Regions from separate parts of the Homo sapiens genome. Here regions 1 and 2 are each linked to region 3. The links come from fine-mapping of genetic effects on gene expression. A gene starts in region 3. Each other region holds a variant in brackets. All regions are shown on one strand. Distances are between the middles of the regions. Region 1 holds the start of SLC25A34 (solute carrier family 25 member 34). Region 2 overlaps DDI2 (DDI proteasomal shuttling factor 2). Region 3 holds the start of PLEKHM2 (pleckstrin homology and RUN domain containing M2).

Region 1 (8,163 bases), 50 kb before region 3:
ACTGGCCACCCCTGCCTAGGCTGGGAGCATGCCCAATCCATGCCCCCAGGGAGCTCTGAGAGTGGCAGGCCTCACCTGGTGATTGTGCTGGTGTCCCACGGCCACTGCGGCCACTGTCTGAGCTTGCAGCTGCGTTTTGATCTATGGGAGCAGAGAGGACACGGGTGTGGGGATGGAGCCTGGGAGAGCCAGGGTGAGCTGTGTGTGTTGAGGGCGCCCTGCCCCCGTGCCCCTGAAACTCACAGCTCCATGGTCCCGAGCCTGAAGCTTAGGGGTCAAGTGAAATAGGGTTGAGGTGCAGCTCTGGGGTTGGCCTGGGTTTTGCGTCTCAGTGTGACTTGGAGCAAGTTACTTAACCTTTTCTGGGCCTCAATTCTGTCACGGTTGGAAAGCTGTTCTGAGGATTAAGTGAGACAATGATCCTCCAGCACCAGCCAAGGGCAAGGCGAGCCTTTGCTCAAGGGGAGCTTTTTTTTTCTTTCTTTCCTTTTTTTTTTTTTGAGGCAGAGTCTTGCTGTGTTGCCCAGGCTGAAGTACAGTGCCATGATCTTGGCTCACTGCAAGCTCTGCCAACTGGGCTCAAGTGATTCTCCTGCCTCAGCCTCCCCGGTAGCTGGGATTACAGGCATGCATCACCACGCCCAGCTAATTTTTGTACTTTTTAGCAGAGACAGGGTTTCACCATGTTGACCATGCTGGTCTCAAACTCCTGACCTCAGGTGATCTGCCCGCCTCGGCCTCCCAAAGTGCTGGGATTACAGGCGTGAGCCACTGCACCCAGCCAAGGGTAGCTTTCTTCAAAACATTTTTTAATTTTTTATTTGTTTTGGGTGGCCCTGAGGCCCCCCTGCAGAGTGCACACGAGGCGGAGGCCCTCAAGGGTAGCTTTTATTCTTATCGTACATGAGGCCATGCGGGAAGAGAAGTAACCAAGCCAGGATTTGAGCCAGCACATCTGACACCCTCTGCCCCCTCCCCTGGCTCAGGACCAGTGGGGCAGGGACCGCAGGGGAGCATGGATCAGAGCAAGGCCCTGGGCCAAGGGGCAGATTCCAGGCTTGGGCTAGGATGTTCCAGGGAGCAGCCCCACCCCGGCTGCCCCACCCCACCCAGGTCCACTGAGCCCTGCCTTTGGAGGCTGCAGGGCCCCTGTGGGAGCTGGGTCATGGGATGGTGGAGGGTGGACGATGGAGACAAGCCACTCACCAGGTAAGCAGGGCTCCCCACGAAGGCTCCCAGTGCCCCCGCCACGGCTCCCGCAACCACGGTGCCACCTGGTTGCTGCGTGAGGCCAGCCTGGCACGCCAGGCTGTAGCAGTAGAAACGAACGCCATTCATGAGGCCTTGGTACAGAAGGCCGGCAGCCAGCCCCTTCTGCAGGCCCCACAGCCCGTCTGCTCGGGCCACAGCAGCGACAGAGGCTATGAAGCCATGGTAGGGCCGTGGGTAGGTGCCCCGGGCCTGCAGCTCCCCCTGCAGCTGCAGCCGCGTCTTCACCACCTCCAGGGGGTTGGTGAAGACACAGGCCAGGCAGCAGGCAGAAGCACCCAGCACCAGGTCCACTGCTGGGGGCACCGTCTCCATGGCCTCCGGGCCAGTGGCCTTCTGTGCCCGGGTCAGGGGCACGGCACAGGCCCTGTGGTGGTGGCGTTTAGGCTGTCTGTAACCTCGCAGGGCTACGGGGCTGGGGTTTGCAGGGGACCGAGGCCATGTCTAGAGGGTAAGGGTCCTGGTCTGACAGGCCTGTGGCTGCCTGGTGTCCCTGGTCTATCTCAGCAGTCCACCTGCTCTGCTCAGCTGTTCCAGCGGTCTGCCGGAGCCTGGGACGCGCCTCCGCCAGCTGCGACCAATCCCAGCTGCCTCTGTGCCCACACCTGCCAGCCGAGGGCGGGCCTGGACCCTGGGATCTGGGGGAAAGGTCACTTGGGACTGGAGGGAGAGCGTGGATAGGGAGAAGGTGCCAACCAGCCCAGGCACCTCCTCCTGGCCTCCCTCTGGCCCTGGGCAAAGGGCTGGCACCCCTGCCTTGCCTCTGGCTTAGCCTGTCCAGCTTTGGCAGAGCCCTAGGCAGGGGGCAAGTGACTGGGAGGTCCCTGGCATGGGGTACACGGCCAACTCCGCCCCTGCCCCACCCTGCCCCTGATATGCCCCTGGTGACTGACTTCCCCTTTCCAGGACTCAAGTCTTCAGTCTGGCTCCCACCGTCTATAGGCCCATGCTCAGCAGGGTCAGAAGTAGAGAAGGGCTCTGGAGCCCTGGGGAGCTGATTGGAATCCCAGGTGTGGCTCTCATGTGTGACCCCTGGGCAAGTCACTTCCTCTCAGAGCTTCAGTTTCTCTCATTTGTAAAATGGAGATACTGACATCCACTCCAGAAGGTTCTGTGGAGGACTGGCGATGAGAAGAGTGTGCCTAGGTCAGTGCTGCACCCGATAAAGGCACCCGCATCGCCTGCTCGCCCCCACCCCCACTGCCTCTGGCTCCTATGCCCCCCTCGCTGCTCCCAGGACTTCAGGGCACCTGGGTGAGTAGGACTTGAGGAGTGACCTTGGCTGGTAAGGACTTGCTGCCAGGCCTGCCCTGGGATGCCCTTTGTGCCCGCTGAGAAGAGAACGCCACCTGGGCCAGCTGTCAGGTGTGTCTGCTCAGGCTGGGGCCGGTACCAACATGCCCACCTTGGCCTCTGCCCCCAGACAGCTCTCTCCTGCCAGGCCACCCTCAGTCACCCAAGGCCCAGTCCAAACTAGAGGCAGAACCACCCAAGTTGGAGTCCCACACCCACCTCCCAGGGCCCACCCCTTCCCTCCCAGGCCCTTGAGGCAGCAATGCTGAGTGGCTTGAGGGCCTCAGGCTCCCGGCCTGGCAGGGTTGTCACCCTCTGGCCAGCCCTGGAGGGGACGGCGCAGCAAGAGGCAGCGAGGACAGCTTGGATTCTCCTGGGTTTGGGCACTCACCCCCGGGGCTGTGGAGGCAGGAGCGTCCTGCCCCGGGGTGGGCTGCAGATGGTGGGCGGCGGTGCAGACGTGCCCTGGGGCTTGAGCTGGTGGCTGCTCCTCCCCTGGCTGCTGCAGCAAACAGGAACAGGACGGAGGGCAAAGGTCGGGCCGAGAAACTCCCAGGGCCTGAGGGTCTGCAGACGGTGAGTCCGCCCGGCAGCGGTGGCTGATCTGGTTCTGCATGTCCCGTGTGTCCCTTGTGTCAGGCACAGGGCAGATGATGGAGGAAGGTTTGCAGAAAAGGGCCCAAGGGATTTGGAGAGCTCCCTTCCCCTACCCTGCTCAAAAAGGGCCAGTGACAAGCCTTGGCAATATAACATGTCTATTTTATTTTAAAAAACAAAACCCAAACCACCTGACCCCTTCCCCAGGAGGCTCTTGACGAAACTCTAGGGAAGGGCCTGGCTCCAGCCAAGCAGGGGACAGTCAGAAGATGTCAACATGGATGCCAGGCTGGTGGGCTCCGCCCTTCTCCAAGCCCCCCATCCACCCCCTTTGCTCCTCGGTGCTACAGGCACTGCCGGGTTGAGGGGACAGGCAGGGCAGGACTGTGGGCATGCAGAGCCTCCTGGCAGCCAGGGAGGGCTGCCCGCCCCCCTGCATCTGGCGAGGCAGGCAGCTGTGTGCGCAGTGATGGAGCTAGGAGGAGGAAACATGCGCAGACACCCCGTGTTCCCGCTTCCCCACGTGGCCAGGAGAGTGTTCAAACACGAACAAGGATGGCTGGGCACTCAGGGCCCCAGCCCCCAACCCAGGAGAGGAAGAGGGGGGTCCCGCCCTCCTGGTTCTTTTGTTCGTCCTTAGATGGATGGTGTTCTCGGTGCCACTCGGCAGAAATTCTGCAGACTGAGGCGGAGGCCCGGGAGGAGGGCGTGCATCCGCAGAGCCCACAGGGCTCGGACCCTCTGCCCCCAGCGACCTCCATTCGCTACCTGTCGGGCAGGATGCCCAGGGGTGCCGGGCACCTGATCTGGATCCCTGGAGTGGAGGGACCCTGTCTTAAGCCACACTCGGTGGTTCTGCCGCCCAGGGCAGGGGTGGACTGTAGGCTCCCGACAGCATGACAACAGCCGTGACAGTGTGCCTGCCGGCTGGCGTGCCTTCCTTTCCTGCCCACCAGGGACGCCAACCAGCTCTGCCTCAGCACCAGGGGTCTCGGGAGGCTCGGCCGCGGCAGAGACTGTCGCTCCGCTGCCAGGCGCTGTGGATGAGGCTCAAGGCATCCTCGAATTTCTTCTTGTTGGAGGCTTCCTGGATCGCCGTGTGGGGGAGGTCCACCTGTGTTGGGGCGTGCAGAGAACAGATGAGGGCCACTGAGGGCCACAGGAGTCTTCAGGGCTTGTGGGCACCAGGCCTGCCTCTGCCTTGGCCACGGAGCCCCTGTCAGGCCCTCCCCATCTCTCCCTGGGAACATCTTCCACGCTGCTAGTTTCTCCCGCTCTTC[C/T]AGGGGCTTGAGCTGAGGATGGGGTGGTGCCCCCCGAGCTCCCTCTTTCCTGGGAAGGCCCCAGCTCTCAGGATGGCCCAGCGAGGCAGGCGCTGCACTCTGTTTGGCTCTGCAGGGAGGTGTCTGTCCTGAGCTGTTCTCTGCCTCTAACTAGTCCAGGCTTCCACGGGGCTAGAGCGTAGCATGTGCTCAAAACCCGCTTGTGCAGGGCTCTCATGAGCACGCTCCCACACTGGCACTCAGCCTGGAGGGCAAGGAAGAGGGTACTGCCAATATTGTGTCCCCCCATCTGAGCACAGCTGGAGGTCCACCACAATTCGTGCTGTTTGATTGGAACTGAGGTCAGGAATTAAGCTTCTTGGGTTCTGTTTTCAGCTTTGGCCTCAGACTCACTGGGAGTCAGGGTTTTGTCCTTTTGATTCTAAGTTTTTGTGCCTGTCAGGTGTGTCTGCTCAGTCTGGGGCTGGCACCAACATGCCCACCTTGGCCTCTGCCCCCAGACAGCTCTCTCCTGCCAGGCCACCCTCAATCACCCAAGGCCCAGTCCAAACCAGAGGCAGAACCACCGGGGCTGGAGTCCCACACCCACCTCCCAGGGCCCACCCCTTCCCTCCCAGGCCCTTGAGGCAGCAATGCTGAGTGGCTTGAGGGCCTCGGGCTCCCAGCCTGGCAGGCTTGTGCGCAGCAAGAGACGGCAAGGACAGTGAGGACTCTTCTGGGTTTGTTTTAAGAGCAGCAGGCACTCACCCCCGGGGCTGAGGCAGGAGCGCCCTGGTACATGGCTGTGCCCAGGACCCTGGAGGCAGGGCCAAGTCCTGGGAGCAGCAGGGGTTCCTCTCCCCGGGGAGTGGCTCCCACTCCACAGGGTCCCTGGCTAATGGGTTTCCTGGGCAGCTGGGTACCTGATAGATGGTTTTCCACCCAGAGTTCAGTGCAGACAGCAATCGGTCCAGTTCAGAAGTGCAGCTCAGGTAGATGACCCAGGGCGGGAGGAGCTGCTGGCTGTCCTGGGAGAACTCCTAGGGAGAGCCAGGCCCCCGGGTGAGCAGCCAGAGCTTTCCTTCTGCAGGCCTTGCAGCCCCGCCCCCACTCAAAGCTCACCAAGACGCAGTACTCCTTGCCCGGCTCGGTGGAGACGGCGCTGATGTCGCCCAGCTTGGCTGTGCCCAAAGAGCGGAAGAAGCTGGTCTGGCAATCCTCATGGCACGTAAAGAGGCGGTCATCCGTGAGGACCAGGCAGCAGGGTATGCAGGGGCTGGGAGCTACGCCCTGGGGGATGACCTGGCAGCGGGGCAGGGGAGAGGCAGGCTGGGGCCTCCAGGGCTGGTCTGCACCAGAAGTCCACACTCCAGGGGACCAGCCAGCCCTTCTGCTCTCCCTCCAGGGATCTCCCTCCAGGGATCGGGAGCAGAGGCGGGGATGGGGGTGATGCCTCTGAGCTCCAGGGTCCATTCCTGGGCTGCCCCCTGGAGGTCCGTCTTGGCCCTCAGGTTGCTCTGTGACTATGGGTTTAGGGATGGGACCCTGGGGGTCTGGGTGGGTCAGGCAAGCCAGGTGAGCGGTAGGGGCAGGCGAAGCTCACCCCTTTGGACACAGCCTGGCAGAGATGCTGCATCCACTCGGCCATCTCGGCCTCGCTCTCGGCACTTAGCTCCAGGCAGGGCCGGTCGGAGAGAATGACCTGGAAGGCGTGGGGCCGATCCGTGGTGTTGGCTCTCCGGCAGCCACCGCACTGCTCCCCCCTGGGCCAGAGGAGGAGGGTGAAACGGGAGCGAGGAGGCAAGGGCAGCACGGGGCGACAGCCCCCAGGGTTGGTGCGGGGTGTGCGGCACAGGGTCTGCCCCACCGTCTTGGGGGCTGGAGGATACCAGAGGGTTCTCCAGGCCCCTCCAGCTCCCAGGAGAGGTCTGGGAGCCCCACCCACCGCCTTGCTGTGCGATGCCTTTCACCTCCAGGATGCCCAAGATCCTCTAGATACCCAAGCATGGCCAGGAGGGGTTGGGAATCAGCTGTCCCACTGGCCCTCTGAGAATCGGCCGCATTCATTCACGCATGCTTCCTCTTGAGGGCCTGCTGTTCCTCCCAAATACCCGAACGTCCATCTCCCATCAGGCCGGGAGCTTCTGGGGAAGGGCCTGCCTCCCCCATCAGACTGGACCTGTTCTAAGCCAGGAGCTCCTTGCTGCCTCCCTCCTCCCCTCCTGTGGGCTCCTTGCAGCCCTCAGAGCGTGGAAGCCCCAGGCCACCTGTCAGGGCCGCTGGATGGGGTGGGGTTGAGGGCGAGGCTGAACTGCCAACAGGGGCAGCCATCTCAAACCAGGGAAACGGCAGCTCTGGGCCCCAGGATACACCCGCTTCTCCCGGGACACTTACCCCATGTTCACCGAGAGCAGAGGGATGACGTCGGTGCGGTCCGGGTACTGGTAGAGGATCCCGTTGCTGCAGGGGCACAACACAGGGCGAGTGAGGCCTGTCCCAGGAACTGGGGCCAGGCGGAGCCCAGGTCCCAGGGTTCCCCTCCCACGCACATGCTGCGGCCATGAACCTGAGGCAAAGGACACCAGGGGCTGTCATCTACGGAAGGCAGGGTGAAGAAGGGCCTGGGGGCCCAGCAGGGAATGTGGCCACCTCAGCAGACCTGGGGCGCAGCTCAAGGTTCATCGGGGGACCAAGCCTGCATCCTCCCCTGAGGCACTCAGGGATTCCTGGGGCCCCAAAGATGACTGGCTCTACAGAGAAGCTCTAACAGCCTGAGCTAAGTCAACTCCAAGCTCTGGTAGGGAAGGGAGGCGTCCTCTCCTCAGGCTGCTCCCTCAGTGACCTGCTGCGGAGAGATCCCCGCTGGGGACCTGACAGCCCAGCCACCCCAGGGCCCAAGCCCCAGGCCTAGAGCTGCCAGGGCTCCCACCTGAGCACCACGAAGCACGTCTTCCAGTGTTCCTTGCCCAGGTAGGAGGTGCCCGCCTTGTAGTGCAGCATGCCTTCTTTGGTGATGGTGCCCTCGGGGGGTGAGCAGTGGCAGGGCGTGGGGCCCAGGGACTCGTCTGTGGGGTCCTCCCAGTGCACAAGGCCGTAGAAGCGCACGGTGACAGCAGATGCCTGATGCGGGGGCGGGCACGGGGGACAAAGCAAGTAAGGCCTGGGCCAGGCAGGTGGCTGAGCCCGGACTGGTTCTTTTTTTTTCTTTTTGAGATGGAGTCTCGCTCTGTCGCCCAGGCTGGACTGCAGTGGTGTGATCTCCACTCACTGCAACCTCCATCTTCCAGGTTCAAGCAATTCTCCTGCCTCAGCCTCCCAAGTAGCTGGGATTACAGGCGCCCATCACCACGCCTGGCTGAATTTTTGTATTTTTAGTAGAGACGGGGTTTTGCCATGTTGGCGAGGCGGGTCTCGAACTCCTGACCTCAGGTGATCCGCCTGCCTTGGCCTCCCAAAGTGCTGGGATTACAGGCGTGAGCCACTGTGCCCTGCCGAGCGAGGGTGTCTTAACCTTAGGACACACCCCAGGTAGGAAGGTGGACATGACTTTCCTCCCTTCCAGGGTGGGAAAGCCCCGCCCCGCCCCGCCCCGCCCCGCCCCGCCCAGGTAGGCGATTGTGAAATGGCAAAGACATCCACGTGCATCCCTTAACGCTCACGCCAAGGCGGCTGCTGCTCTGCCATCTCAGGGGCTGCACTCAGCTTCCTCCCCAGGTTCTTACCTCACACTTCGATTCTTGGGCCA
Region 2 (8,174 bases), 44 kb after region 3:
CACTTTGGGAGGCCGAGGCGGGCGGATCACGAGGTCAGGAGATGGAGACCACCCTGGCTAACACGGTGAAACCCCGTCTCTACTAAAAATACAAAAAATTAGCCGGGTGCGGTGGCGGGCGCCTGTAGTCCCAGCTACTCAGGAGGCTGAGGTAGGAGAATGGTGTGAACCCAGGAGGCGGAGCTTGCAGTGAGCCGAGATAGCGCCACTGCACTCCAGCCTGGGCGACAGAGTGAGACTCCGTCTCAAAAAAAAAAAAAAAAAAAAAAAACAAAAAAAACTGAAAAGAAAAAGAAAACTTTCACATAAAGGATCAAGAATCGGAACAGAATCCAGCCTCACTACAGCAACACTGACAGTGAAAAGGTTAAGGGGCAATGCCTCGAAATTGTGAAGGAAAATGATTTCCAACCTAGGCAGACCAGTATAATGTAGGGAAAAAAGACATGTCTGATAATTAGTCTCAATTTACTCCCATGCACCTCTTCTAAGAAAGTTACTGGATGATGCACTCCAATAAACTGAGGGGCAGATAAAAAAGAGGAAGACAAGGGATTCATGTAATCCAACACAAGACAGAAGAGAAAGGAATCTGTAGGACTCAGTCAAGTTAAATTCCAAAACAGCAGCTCTGAAGCAGGCCTGAAACTGCCAGTCCAGGCTCAAGAAGTATCTTTGATAGGATGAAATGTAGAGGCTATTGGATGTGCTTGAAGGGAGATTTACATAATTAGGAAATGTCTGGGATGAATACTACGCAAGAAACCAAGTAAGAAAAACAGGACAATTATTAATTCTAAGAGAAAATAATACTAGCCATGAAAGAAAAGCAATCACATTCAATTAGATAGCTCAGCTCTCAAACACAGTCATATGAGTAAACAGCAAAATAAACATGTTATTTAGAAATATGGAGGTAAGTATAAAAATAAATCAGCTAAAATGACGGAAAGGGATTATATTTTCAGGAAATAGAAACGTAGAGGAGACTACTTGTTTGCAACCAGCAGAAACACATAACTTTGACGGAACACAGGATTTAAAACTTCTAGAAATTAGGCTTGCTAGCTCAGACATACCCACACAAAAGAAATTTAAAACAACAACAACAAAATAACAACAAAAGACCCTCTAAAAACTTGAAAATCGACTACCCTACCTACAAATAGCCTACAGAAAGACAGCAAGCCCCAGTGCCTTTTGCTCACCTAGATGTACCCTTCCAATAATCTTCTGGGTGCCCACTCCTTTGGCAATCCCTGCCCACCGACGGTCCACCAGTCTCATTATGTTACACCTTTCTGCACAAGCTTGGCTCATGATAGTCATCTGGGCACCTGGAGGAGTAGAGAAACATCAGACAATAAAAACAAAATCCACTTTGTGAGAAGACTCAAAATATAGCACTAAATAATAACAAAGCGAAAACCAAGCACACCCCAAGGCTTTGGTCTCTATAAACTCATTTCTACCTAGCAAGTGCCCTGCCTGCCTAATTCAACTTTCAGTTCTACTCTGTAATCTGAAACATGATGTACAATTTGACATTGAGGGAAGAATATTCTGTAGCGATGCAATAATTAAATGACATTTTAAGACTTTACCAGTAGAAAGCAGTGATGTCCTGCGTCTACAGATGGCAATGCTAAATTAGCAGTACTTTGCACTTCTTACCGAGTATCTCTAAGCCGTCGCCTCCTGGCTTCAAACGATTCTCCTGCGTCAGCCTCCTGAGTACCTGGGATTGACAGGCTTGCGCCATCATGTCCAGCTAATGTTTTTTTTTTTGTTGTTGAGACAGTCTCGCTCTGTCGCCCAGGCTGAAGTGCAGTGGCGCAGTCTCAGCTCACTACAAGCTCCACCTCCCGGGTTCACACCATTCTCCTGCCTCAGCCTCCCAAGTAGCTGCGACTACAGTTGCCCACCACCACACCCGGCTAATTTTTTGTATTTTTAGTAGAGGTGGGGTTTCACTGTGTTAGCCAGGATGGTCTCGATCTCCTGACTTCGTGATCCACCTGCCTCGGCCTCCCAAAGTGCTGGGATTACAGGCGTGAGCCACTGCACCCGGCACGTCCAGCTAATTTTTGTATTTTTAGTAGAGATGGGGTTTTACCACGTTGGCCAGGCTGGTCTGGAACTCCTCACCTCAAGTGATCTGCCCACCTCAGCTTCCCAAAGTGTTGGGATTACAGGTGTGAGCCACAGTGTCTGGCCCTATCAAGTTGTTTTTATATCAAATTTTGGGCTGGGTGTAGTGGCTCATGCCTGTAATCGTACTTCAGGAGGCCAAGACGGGAGGATCACCTGAGCCAAGGAGTGGAAAACCAGCTTGGGCAACATAGCAATATCCCGTCTCACTATGTAAACAAGTAAGTACATTATTTACTACTTTATCTGCTCAAAAAGTAAAATTAAAAACAAAAACCCCACACTGGGACACTATAGTCTACTATTAATAAATCATGCAGTCTTCCAAAATTTAGAAGTGGACTCCCATACTCTGCTCCAACAATCAGACTCTCTTCCCTTTAAATATGAGGGCACTTAGGTTATTTTCTCTCCCAGAAACATGTACACGGCGGGTTGGCCTATGTAGAAGACAGTCGCTTCTGTAATCTTTACAGTCCTAATTTCTCCCTGAAACTCTAGTTCTACATTCTTGTGCACTGGACATTTCTGTCAAAGCCAACAGGCATAAAACTCTTTCTCCCCAAATAATTCTCACTTTGGATTTCTCTGTGTTTGCCAATGGGATTATTTTCTTGCAGCCATAAAACCTGGGCACTGTTCACTTTTGACTCTTCTCCTAGTCTTTCTTCTCTCAAACCTGTAAATAAGGTCTATGCAATTTCTGCTATTTCTGATGCCCTTTCTTCTCCTTTTTTTTTTTTTTTTTTTTTGAGACTGAATTTCACTCTTGTTGCCCAGGCTGGAGTGTAATGGTGCAATCTCGGCTCACTGCAAGCTCCACCTCCTGGGTTCAAGCGATTCTCCTGCCTCAGCCTCCCGAGTAGCTGGGATTACATGCAAGTGCCACCATGCCCGGCTATTTTTTGTATTTTTAGTAGAGATGGGGCTTCAGCATGTTGGCCAGGCTGGTCTTGAACTCCTGACCTCAGGTGATCCACCTGCCTTGGCCTCCCAAAGTGCTGGGATTACAGGTTTGAGCCACTGTGCCTGTCCTGATGCTCTTTCTTCTAACCATAGTGATCAGCCTGGCTCACACTGCCATTCCCTTGCAAAAGGACAATTGTTCTGGCTTCCAAACCACTCCGTGGATGCGTAATTTAAAGCAAGGATATTGTTGTGACCCTTAGGGGTACAGAATTTTCCAGATCTGTGTCTACCTTTAGTTTTCCTAAAATGTCACTTTTTTTTTTTTTGGAAACACAGTCTTGCTCTGTTGCCCAGGCTGGAGTGCAGTAATGTGATCTCAGCCCACTGCAATCTCTGCCTCCCAGGTTCAGGCTATTGTCCTGCCTCAGCCTCCTAAGTAGCTGGGATTACAGGTGTGCCACCATCATGCCTGGCTGATTTTGTGTTTTTAATAGACATGGGGTTTCACCATGTTGGCCAGGCTGGTCTTGAACTCCTGACCTCAAATGGTCTACCCGCCTCAGCCTCCCAACGTGCTGGGATTACAGGTTTGAGCCACTGCACTGGGCCAATAGCACCATTTTCAAATCACTTACTTCTTCATCTGCTTAAAAGTCCTCAATGGTTTCCACTCCTTATGAGATTAGTTTCAAACCACCATCACCACAGCTTCAGATCCCACCCCATCCTGGCTCCACCATTTCTTTCCAGCCGTACATTCTAACTACTCTAAACCCTCTGCTTCAGCAGGAGGAATATGTCCCCTTTGCCATTCACTCACTTTGACCCTCCTGTAAAATGGTCCCTGCCCTGCTTTTTTTCCTGAATTCCACCGATGCTTCAAGATCTAGCTCAAGACCCACTTCCTCCCTAACTGACTGCCCTTTTGC[A/C]ATGACCTCGCCTCTCACTCAATTCCAACACTTCCTGCTCATATTACTCACAGGTACCCTACACTTTATAAGTAATAAAAGTTCTTGGCATTTGAGAAAGATTAGATTCAAAAAGGCCCAGAAATAATGAAGGAAAAGGGAATTTGGAAAGGCAATTCTCTCTTTTCTTCCTCCTTCTTAATTTACAAAAGCCAAGTTATTAAAGTAAGCAACCCAGGATGAGAAGGGCCCCTTTCACTGCTCTCCTGCATTTTCCAAAGCCTCAGCTCAAATGCTGTCTTCTGGAAAGACTCTCCTGAGCACCTCGGTCAGAGTGAGAATGTGGTCTCTACAGCCATCCAACATTCACCTGATTTTTGCACAGTGGTTGAGATTTCTGGCATCAAGGGGACCTGGGGCTGAATCCAAAGCCCACCACTCACGAACTCTGTATACCTGGAAGCGTGACTTGATCCCTCTAAGTTTCCTTATGTGTAAAAGACAGAGTAGAGAATGTGACCTCTCTATATCTAAGTTTTCTTATGGATAAAACAGGAATTATAGAACAAAGTACATAGAGATATTCTGAGGATGAAATAAAATTGAGTAAGATGATTATATTAAGCACCTAGCATGGTGCTTGGCACACAATAAGGAATCAATACACACTGAGTATTCTATTAGCGTCTTCTATGTATTTGTCTCTCACTCACACGGGGACCTCTGAGGCTCCAGTCACTAAGTCTTATCACCAAGCACTCAGCACAAGGCCCTACCCACAACAGATATTTTTTAAACTGAATAATTTCAGTTTTTTTTTAAACTCCCAGGAATGTCTGTATCTCAAGATACAAACTCTTTTTTTTTTTTCCCCCGAAGGCAGGGTCTCACTCACCCAGGCTGGGGCACAGTGGCACAATCACAGCTCACTGCAAGCCCTGACCTCTGCCGTCACCACAGGCTCAGGTGATCTTCCCACCTCAGCCTCCCCCGTAGCTGGGACTATAGGTACGCACCACCACACCCGGCTAATTTTTGTATTTTTTGTAGAGGCGAGGTTTCCCCATGTTGCCTAGGCTGGTCTCAAAACTCCTGGGCTCAAGCAATTCTCCCACCTCACCCTCCCAAAATGCTGGAATTACAGGTATGAGCCACTACACCCAGTCTCAAGGTACAAACTCTTAATGAGAGTTGAGGCCAGGAGTTCCCAATCAGCCTACACAATACAGGGGAACCCTGTCTCTACAAAAAGTTAAAAAATCAGCCAGGTATGGTTGCACATGCCTGTGGTTCCAGCTACTTGAGAGGCTGAGGCTGGAGGATCACTTGAGCCCAGGAGTTGGAGGCTGAAGTGAGCTGACTGCACCACTGCACTCTAGCCTGGGTGACAGAGACCCTCTCTTTAAAAAATGAGAGAGAGAGAGCTGAAACCCAGCATGTGCTCAGGAATGTGTAGATGAACAAATGAAAGAAAATACTTTTTTTCTTTTTATATAGAAATACACAGTGAAGGGGGAAAATATTATTTGAGCAAGGAATTTTTCTACTCTAGGAACTCACCTATCTTACAGCCTTGAGTGAGACAACCCAGAATTAAGATGTATGAGACCACTCAGTCATACACCCACAAAATGCTGCATGGTGTAGTCTTACTAAAAAGCAAACGGTTGTTACTGACAGAAAAGGTGCCAACTAGTATGTGAATTAACTGAACCCTCAAGCAGAAGAATCCCTGTCTCCTTACTTGGTTGTTAAGTTCTTTAAGGGTAAGAACCATACCCAGATAGCCTTACACTCCTCCCAAATCTTGGCAAAGTGCTGGTGCACAGGCCAGGCTGAAATGTGTTTGACCTATACTCTACACAGCTCCTTTTATAGCTCCTTCTTCTAAACCTATGTATTCCCAGTTTTTTACAGAAACATCCAAGAAATTCAGGATGCTAGATAAGGGGAGTTAGGAAGAAAAAGGAGACACCACAAAATACAAAACTGGTTAAGAAATGATTAAAGAAAGAAACCTAATACCAACAGAATGCCTCGCAAGTGAAACAGTAAGTCCCACGCTAGTGAGTTAGCAGCCTAAAGAACTACAGCCATCTGGGCCAGGCACGGTGGATCACTTGAGGTCAGGAGTTCAAGACCAGCCTGACCAACACGGTGAAACCCCATCTCTACTAAAAATGTAAAAATCAGCTGGGCGTGGTGGTTGGCGCCTGTAATCCCAGCTACGTGGGAGGCCGAGGCTGGAGAATCGCTTGAACTGAGGAGACAGAGGTTGCAGTGAGCCAAGATCACGCCACTGCACTTTGGCCTGGGTGACAGAGCAAGACTCTGTCTCAAAAAAAAAAAAAAAAAAAAAAGTACAGCCATCTGAACGGATGCTTGAGCCTCCCCTTCTCCCGTGTCAGGTAAAGATGTTGGAGGGGAGACCAAGAAATAAAAGACAGAGACGTCACCTGAGTCAACAAAGGCTTTCACAGGATGTCCATTCACTTTGCAGTTAATATAAAGCATCACTACTTGGCCAAAACTTTCCGGAGCCTCTTCCATAGCTATTGTCATGTTTTCCTCAATGTTCTGTTGCCTGTAACAGAACAAGACCAGGGACACTGAAAGCATTAATTCCATGGAGAGAAATCAGTTTCAAAGTCACAATATTAAAAAACAGATTTGTACATATCTTTTGCCCCAAGCACAGCAGCCGAGTCATAGAAAAATTGGTGCTATATGGGGCAAGAGATCATTTCCAAAGAGGCAGTAAGATGAACAGCTGGCAGAAAATCTAAAGGCATAAAAATTACCCTTTGTAAAACACTAAGCCGCCTTTCTATGCTCAGAAATAAGAAACTGGAGAGCAAGGGTTACAACCCCATTTTTCTGGCAGAATGTTAGAATTTCGGGAATGTTCCAATTTTAACTGAGGATTTACTGGGTATCTGAATACATTTCCTAAGCCCAGAACATTACAAAAAGTTCACAAACAGAAAACACAAATATTTCAACGTCTTGTGCTGCATCTGCTGCTTCATCTCCAGGACTGGGTTTTCTAATCTGTACACTAAGGATAACTGTTACCTAGGTTGCCAAGAGGTACAAAGCATCTAGTATACAGTGCTCATATAACAGCTTATGCTACAAAAAAATTGCACCCATCACTTAAAACTACATGTGTTTCATAGTTCATTTGATCCATGAAATAATTTGTTTAAAAATTCAACATGCTGGCCGCACACGGTGGCTCACGCCTGTAATCCCAACACTTTGGGAGGCCAAGGCGGGTGGATCACCGGAGGTCAGGAGTTCAAGACCAGTCTGGCCAACATGGTGAAACCCCATCTCTACTAATAATACAAAAACTAGCCGGGCATGGTGGCATGCACCTGTAATCCCAGCTACTCAGGAGGCTGAGGCAGTAGAACTGCTTGAACCCGGGGGGCGGAGGTTGCAGCCAAGATCGCACGACTACACTCCAGCCTGAGCGACAGAGCGAGACACCAAAAACAAAAAAAATCAACATGCCAGGTGCAGTGGTTCACACCTGTAGTCCCAGCACTTTCTTTGGAAGGCCAAAGTAGGTGGATCCCTTGAGCTCAGGAGTTTGAGCTCAGGAGTTTCAAACCAGCCCGGGCAACATGGTGAAACCCCATCTCTCCCCACCAAAAGGAAGGAAAAGAAAACAAAAAAATCAACACAACTCTAATTCTTACACGAGAAAAGCAACAAAAGGGAGTTCTTGCTTACTCCAACATCTCATGTTTATTCCCAATTTTTTTCTACTCCCTTAAAACAGCATGAATCAATCTCCTTTTAAAAACATTATCAAATACTACCAACATTAATGGAAACTAGGTCAGCGGTTGGGCAACTTACCTGAAGACTGAGACACTAACAGAACAGCTTCTAAGATTTGGGATAACCTACACTGTAAATCCAGGGTTGGTAAATCATAGCCTGCTGTTTAGGCAAAAAAAGTTTTATGGAAACACAGTGATATAGTGCATTTACATATTGTCCTATTGTCTATGGCTGCTTTCACATGGCAGTGGCGGAGCTGAACATGAGCAACACAGATTGTATGGTTTGCAAAGACTAAAATATTTACTATCTGCCCATTTATAGAAAGTCCACTAAGGCCTGGCACAGCAGCTCATGCCTATAATCCCAGCACTTTGGGAGGCCAAGGCAGGCGGATCACTTGAGGCCAGG
Region 3 (8,174 bases):
GGGTTTCACCATGTTGGCAAGGCTGGTCTTGAACTTCTGGCCTCAAGTTATCCATCCACCTTGGCCTCCCAAAGTGCTGGGATTACAGGCGTGAGCCACCATGCCTGGCCTATTGTTATCATTTTCATTTAATCATGTTAATTATTAAACTCTCCAGTTCTCTCTCACCCTCAGGAATTCTGTGTCCATATCAGAACACAGGTTGCCTTGGATTCAGATGGATTAACAGCTGTTTCACCTGTCTGGTGTTATAATGGGTATTCACCATCACAAAATCTAAGTGTGAAAATAGTTGAACTCAACAATACTCCTTGGGGATAGTGGTTGCTTTGAGGGTGTAGTTTCTGGGAGGGGAACGAGGGGCCCTCTGGGATAATGGTCATGTTCTGTTTCTTGGTCAGGGTGCTGGATATGCAGGTGTTTTCACTTTGTGAGAACTCATTAAGCTGTCCGCTCAGGACCTGTACACTTTCCTGTAGGCATGCTTCATTTTCATAAAAAGTTCTAAAGTACTCTTTGCAAATATAGAAATACACAATGGATCTTTCCTTGCAGAAATATGCATCTCATTTTCTTCACGTAAAATCCTTATAAAATGACCAGTAAGACCATTTACTGGTGGTAGGATGCAAGAAAAAAGGCAAAGCAACTCTCAAGGTGCTATATAACACATTTAGGTGAGACTGGCATTCAAGGACAAATCTGACCCCAAGACTGCTGTCCTCAATGTCTACTGCTGTAGCCAAACTAACAGGTTCCTAGTAAAGCAGACACTCTGATTCAGAAAACCAAATGTAATTTATGATGCAAGAATCACATCGCAGTTGTCTCAAACAAACACACAAAGGAAGTGGCTACCAAGAACAAATGGTGTTGTAGAACGACCTTTAGGTGGTGAGGCAGTTGAGCCATCTTCAAACCTTGTAAAATTGAGGAATGGGCTCTTGCACAAAGAAAAAAGCTACCAGTTAAGACTGGGCCAGGATCCATGCTAAACACTCTACATGTTTATTAAAACTTCACCATGCCTGTAATCCCAGCACTTTGGGAGGCCGAGGTGAGCGGATCATGAGGTCAGGAGATCGAGACCATCCTGGCTAACACGGTGAAACCCCGTCTCTACTAAAAATACAAAAAAATTAGCCGGGCATAGTGGCGGGCGCCTGTAACCTGTAGTCCCAGCTACTCGGGAGGCTGAGGCAGGAGAATGGCGTGAACCTGAGAGACGGAGCTTGCAGCGAGCTGAGATCACGCCACTGCACTCCAGCCTGGGTGACAGAGCAAGACTCCATCTCAAAAAAAACAAAAAACAAAAAACAAACAAACAAAATCTTCATAACACAGCCTGACCAATATGGGCGAAATCCCATCTCTACAAAAAATACAAAAAGTAGTCGGGCACGGTGGCTCATGCCTGTAATCCCAGCACTTCGGGGGGCCAAGGCAGGCAGATCACTTGAGGTCAGGAGTTCAAGACCAGCCTGGCCAACATGGGGAAACCCCATCTCCACTAAAAATACAAAAATTAGACGCTGGGCGCCGTGGCTCACGCCTGTAATCCCAGCACTTTGGGAGGCCGAAGCGGGCAGATCACAAGGTGAGGAGATCGAGACCATCCCTGGTTAACATGGTGAAACCCCGTCTCTACTAAAAATACAAAAAAATTAGCCGGGCGTGGTGGCCGGCGCTTATAGTCCCAGCTACTTGGGAGGCTGAGGCAGGAGAATGGTGTGAACCCATGAGGCGGAGCTTGCACTGAGCGGAGATCAGGCCACTGCATTCTAACCTGGGCGACAGAGCGAGACTCCGTCTCAAAAAAAAAAAAAAAAAATTTAGCCGGGTGTGGTGGCGCACACCTGTAATCCCAGCTACTCGAGAGGCCGAGGCAGAAGAATCGCTTGAACCTGGGAGGTGGAGGTTGTAGTGAGCCGAGATCACACCACTGCCCTCCAGCCCAGGCAACAGAGCAAGACTCTGTCTCAAAAACAAACAACAACAACAACAACAACAAAAAAACACTCCACAACATCCCTAATTTTATCCCTGCTTTACAGATGAAGAAACTGGGCATGGAGAGGTTAATAAGCCTGACCAAGGTTACAGGGTTATTAATTTGGCAGGGCGGGGATTCAATCAGGCAGCTGGACTCCAGAATCCATGCTCCTAACAATGATGCTGCCCATGGCTTTGGTTGTGATACACCCAGGGATGGGTTTGCAGTTTCTAGTGTGACATTTTCTGGGGTGCATTCCAGCTCAATAAGTGTCCTTGTCCAAACACCTACAATTATATGCACCTCAACAAACACACCTAACTCATAAGTGACAGCCTGACTTACAAAGTGAATCTCTGCCTTCAAAAGACTCATGCTTATACATGTGACAGCGTGCCCCATGTCTACTGCCTCTCCATCACAGACTTTCTCCATTCATTTGTTTGAAATCCAAAGACAAACGCCGGGCCTACCTAAAGCCACAATCAGCCCAGATTAGATTAGAAAGGTCACCTGTGTTCCTTTCTCTTCCATTAGGAAAGATGTACTGCTTCTCAACAAAGTATTTGCTCATCCTGCCCTCCTTGAGTAAGCAAAAACCATACCCCATTACATTAGCAAAGCTCAGTAAAACTACGTAAAACTCTTGTTGGATCTCTGCAATGTTACTTTAGCTGTGCTTTTAGAGGAATGTTTTCAGTAAGGGCAATTCGAGAATCTATTTTCTTTTTAAGTCACATTTATCTTTATGAAAGGTAAAATAGCTTGCCTGTGTTGCTTTTGAGGAATCTCAGTGGGAAAACAGACAATTATTTAAATATGATGGTTGATCTAATTAATTCTATCCATTTTGCTTCTTCAAGTAAAATAAGCTGCTGAGTCCCTCACCCAAGCCATTTTCTTTCTCTTTTTTCTTTCTTTCTTTCTTTTTTTTTTTTTTTTTTTCAGTTTCTGAGACTATCTGGTGAGCCAGGAATTCAAATTACACAAACACACACACAGAGAGGGAGAGAGAGAGAAAAATCCATTCTGATTTGGCCATTTAGGTTTTCAGTGAATATGGATTCTTTTAAATTTATTATTATTATTTTTATATCCAGCCCAAAAACGTCAGAATATGGATTCTACCTTCTAGCACGGACCCTTTTGCGGATATGCCAACTTCATCACAAATACATGCCCTTGACAGGTATGTACTCATTTCTACCTGGAATTGGGACAGTGATGTTTACTGCGGCAAGCCCCACAGCAAGGTGTCTGTGGTGTCACCCGGTTCCCCGGATCAGCATCCAAAATGCAATCCCCATGTACTTCAGGTTCTTATAATCAAAGCCCCTAGTGAACCTCTTCAAAGCTACCATCCTTGAGCAAGATTATTCAGGGGACTTCCCAGGAGCAGAGGCAATGTCGCCGGGACCCAGGCCATGGGAAAGTGAAGTTGCTTATCACTGGCCTCCACCCTGACTGCCAGACCCTGGGCGACGCCAGCCTGGCGGGGGGACCCGGGGATGCAGCGGATTCCACAGGAGGCTGCATGGGGTTCCTTCAGGAGCTCCCGGGGGCGCCGCTGCCCCAGTGGGGGACCGGAGGGTCGCTGACCCCTCTCCGGGAGGGCAGGGCCCCGGGCCAGGTTTGGGGAAGCTCCGAGGATGCTGACCTCAACTTTGTTCTTTAAAAATAGCTCCGAGGCCGCGGCGCTCACGTGAGCGGCGCCGCTTCCCCTCTACCGGCCCGGGGCTCCCGGCCGCTCGTCGCCCCCCGGGTCGCGGAGGGGAAGGGCGGGGGGCCCCGGCCCGGGAGAGCGCCGCCGGAGGGCGTGGGGGGCGCGGCGAGGAAGGGGCCCCGGCCGGGAGGGAGGCCGCGCTCACCTTCTTCACCGACAGCGAGATGTTCTCCAGGATCCGGTCCTTCACCTCCCCCGGCTCCATGGCGCTGCCACCGTCGCCGCCACCGCCACCGCCACCGCCGCCGCCGCCCCGCCGCCGCTTCCCGCGCCGGGGGCCGGGGGCCGCCGCCAACCGCTGCCGCCGGCCGTACGGGGGCTCCGTCGTGCCGGCCGCGGGGCCCGGCGCCCGCCGCCCGGCCCTCGCCTCGCCTGGGCCCTCGCTCCACCGCGGCCCGGAGGCTCCGGAGCGCGGCCGGCGGGGAAGGAGGCCGCGGGCTGTGCGCCGCGGCGGCGGCGGCGGCAGGAACTGATGTCAGGCGGGGCGGCGCCAGGGCCCGCCTGCGCCTGGGGACTCCGGGGACCCGGAGACCCGCACAGACCCTTGGCCGCGGCCCTCCCCAGAGACCCCGAGACCCGCCCCCAGCCCTCCTCAAGTCACAGACTCTCCCCGGCACCCCAGAGACACCCTCAGACCCCAGGGACGCCAGAGACCTCGACCCCGCCTGCCGGGGACCTCGGGGCTCCTCAGAGACCCTCCCCAAGCCCTCCTCAGCCCACAGATTCCTTCAGGGACCCCAGAGACACCCTCAGACCCCAGGGACTCCGGACACCCCGACCCCGCCTGCCAGAGACCCCCACAGACCCTGGGACCCCGGCCCTCCTCGGAGACCCTCCCCCAGGCCTCGTCAGCCCACAGATTCCCTCAGGGACCCCAGAGACACCCTCAGACCCCAGGAACTCCGGAGACCCCGACCCCGCCTGCCCGGGACACCGGCCCTCCTCAGAGACCCTGGAGACCCTCCCCCTCAGCCCTCAGGCCATAGACTCCCCCCTGGGACCTCAGAGACACCCTCAGACTCCAGGGACTCCGGAGACCCCAACCCCACCTGCTGGGGACCCCCACAGACCCTGGGCCCCCAGCCCTCCTCAGAGACCCCCAAAGACCCCGAGGCACTGGCCCTCCCCAGAGACCCTGAGACCCTCCCCACAGCCCTCCTCAGCCCACAGGATCCCCCCACAAAACCCCAGAGACTCCCACAGGCCCCAAGGACTCTGGAGACTCCGACCCCACAGGCCAGAGACCCCCACAGACCCTGAGACCCCGGCCCTCCTCAGAGACTCGAGACACCCACAGACCCTGGGCCCCCTCCCGCCGGCCCTCTTTAGTCCACAGACCCCTCCTTGGAGACCCCAGTGCACCCCACTAACTCTGGCCAGGGACCCCAAGACCCTCTTAGCCTGCAAGCCCCACTTATCTTCCTCCCCTTCCTTAGCCCAGCCACCCCCTCAATGTGCAGACCCAGGCCCCCTGGCTTTCGCAGCCTGGAGGACCCAGCACCCCCACCGGGTCAGCCTAGACTCCAGTCCCCAGCCCTAGACCCTCCCTGGGCCCCCTGGCCCTCCACAGCCTCCCCTCCTCAGTGCCTCACCCTCAAGGCCCAGTCCTACATTTGAGGTCCCTGGTGTTCCTCCCCACCCCCAAAACACACCCTCCTCACCTTCAGCCCCAATGCCCCATTCCCACTCCTTATCCTTATCCCTCTTCTTCAGCCCCACGTATCCCAAGGGCCTCAACTCCCTCAGCCCCTGAAACCCACCGTAACAACTCTCTTCCCACACACCCTCCTCAAATCCACCATCTCATAAAGCCCCTGCACTTAGAGGTGTCAGTCTCCTACCTGGCTCTCTTCCCTCCTTAAGTTCCCAAATAAATATATCCTGACACATAGATTAGTCCCTCCTTTTTATTCTCAGACACCCCAGTTCTCAACTCTGGTTCCCTGGTCTTCCCTCTTCTCTGCTCAGGCCACCCCATCCCTGAAGTCCCCTTAGCATCTGAAATACTGATTCATTGCTTATCTCAGAGGGACCCCACAAGCCTCCAAAGGTCGCTCCCCAGCCCCTTAGTTTCCCAAGGAGAGACCCAAAATAGTGGTACTTTGTTTTTTGTTTTTTTTGTTTTGTTTTGTTTTGTTTGTTTTTGAGACAGAGCCTTGCTCTGTTCCCCAGGCTGGAATGCGGTGGTGCGATCTCTGCTCACTGCAACTTCCGCTTCCCAGCTTTAAGCGATTCTCCTGCCTCAGCCTCCCGAGTAGCTGGGACTACAAGTGCATGTGACACCATGCCCAGCTAATTTTTTTTTTTTTTTTTGAGGCGGAGTCTCGCTCTGTCACCCAGGCCGGAGTGCGGTGGCACAATTTCAGCTCACTGCAACTTCCTCCTCCCAGGTTCAAGTGATTCTCCTGTCTCAGCCTCCCCAGTAGCTGGGATTACGGGCGCCTGCCACCACGCCCAGCTAATTTTTTTGTATTTTTAGTAGAGACGGGGTTTCGCCATGTTGGCCAGGCTGGTCTTGAACTCCTGACCTCAGGTGATCTGCCCGCCTTGGCCTTAAATTATTTTTTAAAGACAGGGTCTCACTCTGTCACCCAGGCTGGAGTGCAGTGGTGGGTGTGATCATAGCTCACTGTAGCTTGAACTCCCTGGGGGATCCTCCCACGTCAGCCTCCCCAGTAGCTGAGAGTACAGAATAAAATACGCCCAGCGAATTTTATTTTTTGTAGAGACAGGGCCTCGCTCTGTTACCCAGGCTGGTCTTGAACTCCTGAGCTCAGGCCATCCTCTTACCTCAGCCTCCCAAAGGGCTGGGATTACGGGCATGAGCCATCATGTCCAGCCCAGGGCGTTTTCTTATTTGTACTGAGTTCAGGAAAGCAAGAGATAACAGCCTCTTTGGAGTTGTTATCTACCTCTCATATTCAGAGAGCAGAATAAGAACAGATGAGGGTTGAGACTCCAGTCACTGGATAGGTAGAGAAAAGGTTGAGGACAGAGGACACATTACTTTGAATGAGGAAATAAATAGCCAGGTATCTATGAGTAGAAATAGCCTCCTACTTACCAAAGGTGTTTGTGGAGTCAGAATTGCGCACTTCCTTCCCACTCCATCCTGGCTAGGGTGCATACAGGCCCCAACCTGCTGGATGCAGCTCTGGTTCATGAAAATGCAGTCCCCCAAAACTGACCCAACAAGCTTTGGGATTCTTCTCTGCTGTTGAATAGCAGGCCATCTTCTGCTGAGCACTGCGTTCTGCTGGGCACCTCCTCCCTAGGAATGGCTGATCATGGCTTGGGCACATGGTACACTCAGTGGGTATTTTTATTCCTTGGCTGTATGCCTGGGGCGTCCACTTGGTCTGTGACATAAGAAGGTGGTGGCATTTCTGCCATATTGTTTTTATCTGCATGTATTGGGAGATGGTCACATTCAGCATTTTACAACATTCAGAGGAATGTAAGGTCTCACTGTCTACCAAATTCCTAAGGTTTGCATAGGTATGTGAGCTGGTACAACAGACATTGTTATCTAACAACACTTCTTGCAGGAAAGAGGGAGAGGCCAAATGTGCATTGATGTGCAGCTAATTGCTCCTTGTCCAGAGTTCAAATATGGAATCCGTTCTGCGTGTCAAACACAGGGCGAGCCGGGCATGGTGGTGCATGTCTATAGCCTCAGCTGCTTTGGAGGCTGAAGAGGGAGGATCTCTTGAGCTCATGTGGCTGCACTCCAGCCTGGGTGACAGAGCAAGACTTCACCTCTTAAAAAACCCCAAAAAGCAAACCAAAAAAAAAAGGGTGACTCTGAAAAACACAAGATACTTATTTGTTATTGGGAGTCACTTAAGCTGGAAATTGAAGCTCATTCATTTATTGCACAAGACTTTTCTGATCTCATGAGAAGTGCATGGGACTCTGAGTCAAAAGGCAACAAGAATTAAAAGCCTCAACTGACTCATGCTAGGGCCTCAGGCAAGTCACTTTGCCTTAATTTCCAAATCAGTGACCCAGGAAAAATGATTCTATTCTTATTTTTTGTTGTTGTTGTTTTTTGAGATGGAGTTTTACTCTGTCGCCCAGGCTGGAGTGCAGTGGCTCCATCTTGGCTCACTGCAACCTCCGCCCCCCCCGGGTTCAAGTGAGTCTCCTGCCTCAGTTTCCCAAGTAGCTGGGATTACAGATTCCTGCCACTGCACCTGGCTAATTTTTGTATTTTTAGTAGAGTTGGGGTTTCACCATCTTGGCCAGGCTGGTCTCGAGCTCTTGACCTCATGATCCACCTGCCTCAGCCTCCTAAAGTGCTGGGATTACAGGTGTGAGTCACCGCGCCCAGCCTGTTGTTTTCTGAGACAGAGTCTCGCTCTGTCACCCAGGCTGGAGCGCAGTGGCGTGTTCTCAGCTGACTGCAGCCTCTGCCTACTGTCATAGCATTTAGAATACAGTCCATACTCTTTTCTC

Evidence for each region. PIP is the estimated chance that this variant, and not a neighbour inherited with it, causes the effect.
Region 1: its variant is fine-mapped to the expression of PLEKHM2 in whole blood (TOPMed, PIP above 0.99).
Region 2: its variant is fine-mapped to the expression of PLEKHM2 in whole blood (TOPMed, PIP above 0.99).

What each region holds. Positions count from the first base shown.
Region 1 is chr1:15,729,907-15,738,069 of GRCh38, reverse strand. PLEKHM2 (pleckstrin homology and RUN domain containing M2) reads right to left here. Exons shown (of 20, transcript NM_015164.4): 14 at 8,141-8,163; 15 at 7,348-7,538; 16 at 6,813-6,878; 17 at 6,022-6,181; 18 at 5,541-5,720; 19 at 5,342-5,458; 20 at 3,301-4,273. The coding sequence ends at 4,136. It overlaps SLC25A34 (solute carrier family 25 member 34), which reads right to left and starts at 1,812. Exons shown (of 5, transcript NM_207348.3): 1 at 1,207-1,812; 2 at 76-141. The coding sequence starts at 1,584. RefSeq lists enhancers at 1,946-2,712, 2,713-3,478. The variant C/T (reference allele first, on the strand shown) is at 4,440.
Region 2 is chr1:15,636,685-15,644,858 of GRCh38, reverse strand. It overlaps DDI2 (DDI proteasomal shuttling factor 2), which reads right to left. Exons shown (of 10, transcript NM_032341.5): 5 at 6,425-6,552; 6 at 1,209-1,337. Among named protein-coding and RNA genes, the nearest start is that of RSC1A1, 19 kb to the left of the region's middle. The variant A/C (reference allele first, on the strand shown) is at 3,990.
Region 3 is chr1:15,680,306-15,688,479 of GRCh38, reverse strand. PLEKHM2 (pleckstrin homology and RUN domain containing M2) reads right to left here and starts at 4,160. Exons shown (of 20, transcript NM_015164.4): 1 at 3,862-4,160. The coding sequence starts at 3,921. RefSeq lists enhancers at 3,177-3,236, 8,096-8,174 and silencers at 3,467-3,536, 4,057-4,136, 4,227-4,306.